2 separate regions of the Homo sapiens genome follow, and region 2 is linked to region 1. The links come from fine-mapping of genetic effects on gene expression. Tissue or cell type: whole blood. Region 1 holds a variant in brackets; the other region holds the start of a gene. All regions are shown on one strand. Distances are from middle to middle.

Region 1 (2,760 bases):
GTCAAATGGTATTTCTGGTTCTAGATCCTTGAGGAATCGTCACACTGAAGCAGGACTGCTGGGCAGGACCGCTGGGCAGGAAGCTGGGCAAGACCGCTGGGCAGGAAGCCGGGCAAGACTGCTGGGCAGGAAGCCGGGCATGACTGCTGGGCTGGAAGCTCTAGGGGATGTGGCACATCTGGCTACAGGAGATGGGGGTGGGTGGAGTTGACTGCTCTGGCATCTGGGTGTTTCCAGGGCAATAGGGGGCTGCACCCCTTAGCAAATTCAGGCAGAAGTAGAACTGCTGGGCCAGAAGCTCGATCAGGCATGACTCACCTGGCTACCAGCAGTGGGGGTGGGTGGGGATGCCATCCCTACTGTCTGGGTACCTCCTGGGACAAAAGGAGGCTGTGCCCATCGGCTGAGTTTCCACAGAAGCGGGCTTACTGGGCCAGAAGCTCTAATACACATATCCCACCTGGCTACTAGTAGTGGGGGACAGCAGGGTGGGTGTTTCTCAGGACAACAGGAAGCTGCACCCTCTAACCGAGCTCACACAATAGCAGGGCCACTGGGTCAGAAGCTCTAGTGGGCATTGCATTCCTGGCTCTCAGTGGCAGGGATTAGATCAGTGGGGTCATGCACCCTGCCATCCAGGTGTTTCTCAGGACAACAGGTGGCTGCACACTCCAGCTGAGTTCCCACAGATGCAGGACAGCTGAGCCAGAAGTTCTAATAGGCATTGCCCACTTGGCTGTCAGTGGCATGGGTGGGTGGGGTCACCTCTCCTGCCATCTGAGTGGTTCCTGGGACAACAGGAGGCTGTGCATGCCAGCATAGTTCAGACAGAAGTGAGGCTGCTGGGCTAGAAACTCTAATAGGTGTTACCTGCTTCATTAATAGTGGTCAGGGTGGGTGGAGTGTCATGTGCATGGCTGACCAGGTGTTTCCCAGGATAACAAAGCTGGGACTTCCACCTGACTTTAGAAAGAAGCAGGGCTGCTGGCCTATAAGCTCTAGCAAGCATTACCTGCATGGCTATCAGTGGTGGGGGCAGGCAGGGTCATGTACTCTGCCATTTGGATGTTTCATGGGACAACATGAAGCTGTGTCCTCCAGCTGAGTTCACGCAGAAGCGGGGCTGCTGTGCTGGAAGCTCTAGCATGCATTGCTTGCCTGGCTACCATTGGCAGGGGTGGGTGGGGTCACACATTCTGCAATCCAGGTGTTTCCTGGGACAACAGGAAGCTGTGACCTCTAGCTGAGTTTACACAGAAACGAAGCTGTTGGGGCAAAAGTTATAGCAGGCATTGCTTGCCTGGTTGCCAGTGGTGCGAGTGGGTGGAATCATACACTCCAAAATTTGGTTGTTCACCAAAACAACAG[G/A]AAGCTGTGTGCTCCAGCTGAGTTCACACAGAATCAGGGCCACTGAGCAGGAAGCTCTAGGAAGTGTTGCTCACCTGGTTTCCAGTGGCAGAGTCGGGTGGGGTCATGTGCTCTGCCATCCAGGTGTTGCTTGGTAAAACAGGAAGCTGCACCCTCTAACTGTGCTCAAACAGAAGTGGGCTGTCGGGCCAGAAGCTCTAACAGGTGTTGCCCACCTGGCTTCCAGTGGCAGGGCAGGTGGGGTCACACACTCTGCCATCCGGGTATTTTCCAGGACAACAGGAAGTGGCACCATCCAGCTGAGTTCACAAAAAAGCAAGACCACTAGGCCAGAAGCTCTAGCAAGCATTGACATTCTGGCTATCAGTGGTGTGGCTGGATGGGGTCATGTGCCCTGCTGTCAGAATGTCTCCTAGAACATCAGGAGGCTTCACCCTAAAGCTGAGTTCACACAAAAGGGAGACCATGAGGCTGAAGGCTATATCAGGCATTTCCACTTTGGCTACCATTGGCAAGGTGGGTGAAATAGCTGGCCGAATTCAAGCCAAAGTAGGACCGCTAGGCTAGAAGCTGGTGCTGAGCCTCTTCCAGCAAGGGGAAGTAAAGCAATCTTACTGCTCCCAGATACTGCCACTTTGGCCTCTATTGGAGCTATGGTGCAAGTGCTGGTGTTTTCTAGGGCCCAAGGCTTGTAGAAGTCCCCTTGGACTCGAGAGTTGCCTGTGAAAAAGTCTGAACAGTTTTCTGCCTCAGTCTTAGAAGTGTAGGAGGGGGACGGGGGAAGGGGGATTCTCCCATTCCTAGTCTTGCACAGGTCCCTGTTGGAGTGTGAATCTCCCTAGGTGCTCTCACTCACTCTTTCTCATATTAGAGAGGTTCTCCTGGCTCTCTGCTGAGTCCAGGCTGGCTGTTGACCAGCTTTGATCCTCTGCTCTCTGTGTTCCCCTGCTGCATTGATGGATCCTGACCTGGTTTCTCAGAAGATCAACCTGCAGAGTTAGTGCTCACTAGCCCTTTTGTTTCCTTTCTTTGAGAACAGCACACATGAGCTGCCTCTAGTCTACCATCTAGGCACTGCCTCTCATGCAGGTAAAAATGACCCAATTACTCAGATTAAAAGCTTCCAAAACCATTCTGAGTTCCTAGACACTATTCAAATGAAAAATAACAAAAATCTGATATGTAAAAAAATAGGCCTGACCTATTGGCTACAAGAGTTCAAGGGGATTTCAAAATTTTTTTGGGAAGAAGCTTTAAGATGGCTGACTAGAGGCATCTGGTACTCACGTACTCCACAAAGACGAATGGAAGACGTGAGTACTGGATGCCTCTAGTCAGCCACCTTAAAGCTTCTACCACACAAAACCAAATTAGTGAGTAGACAGTATCATC
Region 2 (2,610 bases), 160 kb before region 1:
ATTTGATTCCACATAGTGTTCTTAACCTTCCGCTCCCGCCCCCACTGCTGAAACCCCAAGTGGGGTGTGTGGGGGGAGCAGGGGGACTGGGAGGGGGATAGAATCTAGACGAAAGAGGTGGGAGTGGGTGGGTATTAGTCCCAGAGTCACTTACCGACCATGTCACTAGCTGAGGACTCCTGAAGTGTCCAGAACTCATGCCGTCCTCCGGGAGGCTCATACTCCTGAGCTGATCGCAAGAGAGCTGTTCCCCTCACACCCGCCCCATTCTGACATAGCGCAGGGCGACGCGTTCTCGTCTTCTCGTTCTTGGGCCCCCACTCCCCTATTTCTCCGGGCTGGAAAATGAGGAGGGGGTCGAAAGGGGAGGGAGTCGATTCAGACCCAGCTGGGCCACTCTCGGAACAAGGGAAACAAAGCTCTCAAGCATCCAACCCAAAAATCAGGGGCCGGCAGAGTAGACTTCCTAAAAAGAATCCTCCCCCCTGCAGCTTTTCCTTGGACAAAAATAAAGTGGGTTCGCTGGGCCGAAGTGGCCAGAGCTTAAGGTCCTCCGTTCCCCTTTTACCTCTACCAATTCAGTTCCGGCCAAGCCCGCTCTCCACCCATCCTCTGAACTCCACACACCCTTTAAAAGGAGAGGGCCGGGGGTGGGGGCTATGAAAACCAACCCAACCCCCAAAGCGCTACTTGAACATAAAGTTGAGGCGGAGAAGAAATCCTTCAAGACAGGAACCCACGAGGAGATACCACAAGAGGATCCCTTCACCGCCGCCGTTGCCGCCGCACACCCCAGCGCCTTCCTAAAAAGAAAGAAGGGAGGAAAAAAATGCCGACGATTGGTAGAATCATAGAGAAGAACACCAGCCCCAGGGCAGGGGCTTCAGCGAAAAATGGCAGCAACTCGTGCGGGTCCTCTGGGGCGGGGTTTCTTGGAGGCACCTAGCTGCCCCACGGGGTACCTCGCGCCCCACGCGAGTCAGAACCTAAAGTGCTCTCTGGGCAACCTGAGTGGGTAGAGTGATTCCGTCTTTCTCTGGCCCTGCTAGGCCCAAAGGAGAGGTGTGACTATCGTGAGGACTCCACCTAGGGTGGAGTTCCTTAAAAAGGACAGGCGGCCGCTAGAGGAGAGTGCAAAGTGGGAGGAGGTGGAGAAGGGTGGGGCTGAGAAGGAGGAGGGAGGAAGGAGGGGGTGGGGCGGGGCCCTGGGCCGACAGAGCTGGCCTCGCCTCCGGCGGCCGCCTCCCTCAGCCTCCAGCAGCGGCAGGTATAATTCCAATCAATTTCACTTCCTTATCTGTCCCAAAATTAAGGCTTGCAAGCACACTGCTTGATTACCTATTTACTCCGGTTATGCTAATTCTCCAGGGGAGGGTGGTGAAACGGGTACTGGGATTGGGGCTGGGGGCTGTCTAAGAGGGAAAGGAGAAAACAAAAAAGCTGACAACTGGAAGCGATATTTATCCTCCTACCTCTCCATGGTAACACGAACAAGGACAGCGAGGTCACAGTGTCTTCTCAGGGAGGAAGCTAAAAGGAACGGAGATTGGAGCTTGGTGCATTTTCTAGCAAGAGATAAGCCAAGGAGGTGAGGGCGAAGGAGTAGGTGGGGAAGAAGAAGGAGTTGAAGATGATCTGTGAATACAGCGTGGCCCAGCAGGGAGACTTAAGAAAGGCTTTCTCAGTCTCCCAGATACCAGACCTCTAAGAATAGAGTTCTCAACCCCCTGAGACCGCCTCTCAGCCAGGCATTGGCGAAGATCCCCGTAAAGCTGAATCCACAGGATAGGAGCCATGTTTCCAGGATTTCTTTACGCTTGCCTGAAAGTCTCTCTCTAGCTCATTTTAATGGGAGGCCAGGAAGTCACAAGCAACCACAGCCCATTTTCAGTGCCTCTTCCCTACCACAATTCTTTTAAAGAGGAGGAAAAAGAAGAGAGACAAGAAACAAAGCAGAGGGAGGAAGAGCAAAGAGACAGGAGAAATAATAATATCTGCCATGTATTCAGCACCTAATATGGGCAAGTCCCTGAGCCAGGTGCTTTTACATTCAACATTTCCCCATTTAGTCCCAATAACAACCCTGGGAACTAGGTACTGTTATATTCTCTGTGCCCTTTATTTAAAAAAATAAGGAAACGGAAGGCCTCAGCCCAGTACTTTCGAACACATAGGTCTACTTACTTAGTTGATATTTCTGCCTGAATGTCTTCTGTGCATCTCATCTACCTTCCTTTCCCCAAAACACTCTGTTCTTCCTCCTGTAGTTCACCAACTACCTGAATGGCACCACCATACATCCAAGGCAGCACCCTGGAACTCATCCTTTAACCTGCTGTGATCTGGCCTTTGTCTGCCTCTCAAGCAGCAGAGATTTTGCTGTTCTCCTGGGCTTTACCTGGATTACAAATCCCTGGGAATTCCAAGCTGTTTCCAATCTCTATGCCTTGGGTTGCTTTACTTTCTCTGACTGAAATAGACTAAGCTCTCTGTCCACCTTTTTTTTTCTTGCATGTCCTTCCAATGAATCTGTCCACTTTCTTGAAAGGACTAACTCAAGGTCATCTCCCCTCCTTACTTAATTTCTTCAGGCAAAACTGACCATTGCTT

Which allele goes with the higher level. Alleles are on the strand shown, and positions count from the first base shown. SD is a standard deviation of normalised expression in the study named.
For the expression in whole blood of the gene that starts at base 1,140 in region 2, allele A in region 1 goes with a lower level than allele G (small effect, 0.26 SD a copy in GTEx).

What was found. PIP is the estimated chance that this variant, and not a neighbour inherited with it, causes the effect.
Region 2: it holds the start of KLF8, and the variant in region 1 is fine-mapped to the expression of KLF8 in whole blood (TOPMed, PIP above 0.99).

Annotation. Positions count from the first base shown.
Region 1 is chrX:56,067,122-56,069,881 of GRCh38, reverse strand. The region is part of intron 1 of LOC124900486 (a long non-coding RNA gene); the gene reads right to left. It also overlaps a transcript of KLF8 not described here. Among named protein-coding and RNA genes, the nearest start is that of KLF8, 160 kb to the left of the region's middle. The variant G/A (reference allele first, on the strand shown) is at 1,369.
Region 2 is chrX:56,230,886-56,233,495 of GRCh38, reverse strand. KLF8 (KLF transcription factor 8) reads right to left here and starts at 1,140. Exons shown (of 6, transcript NM_007250.5): 1 at 155-1,140. The coding sequence starts at 161.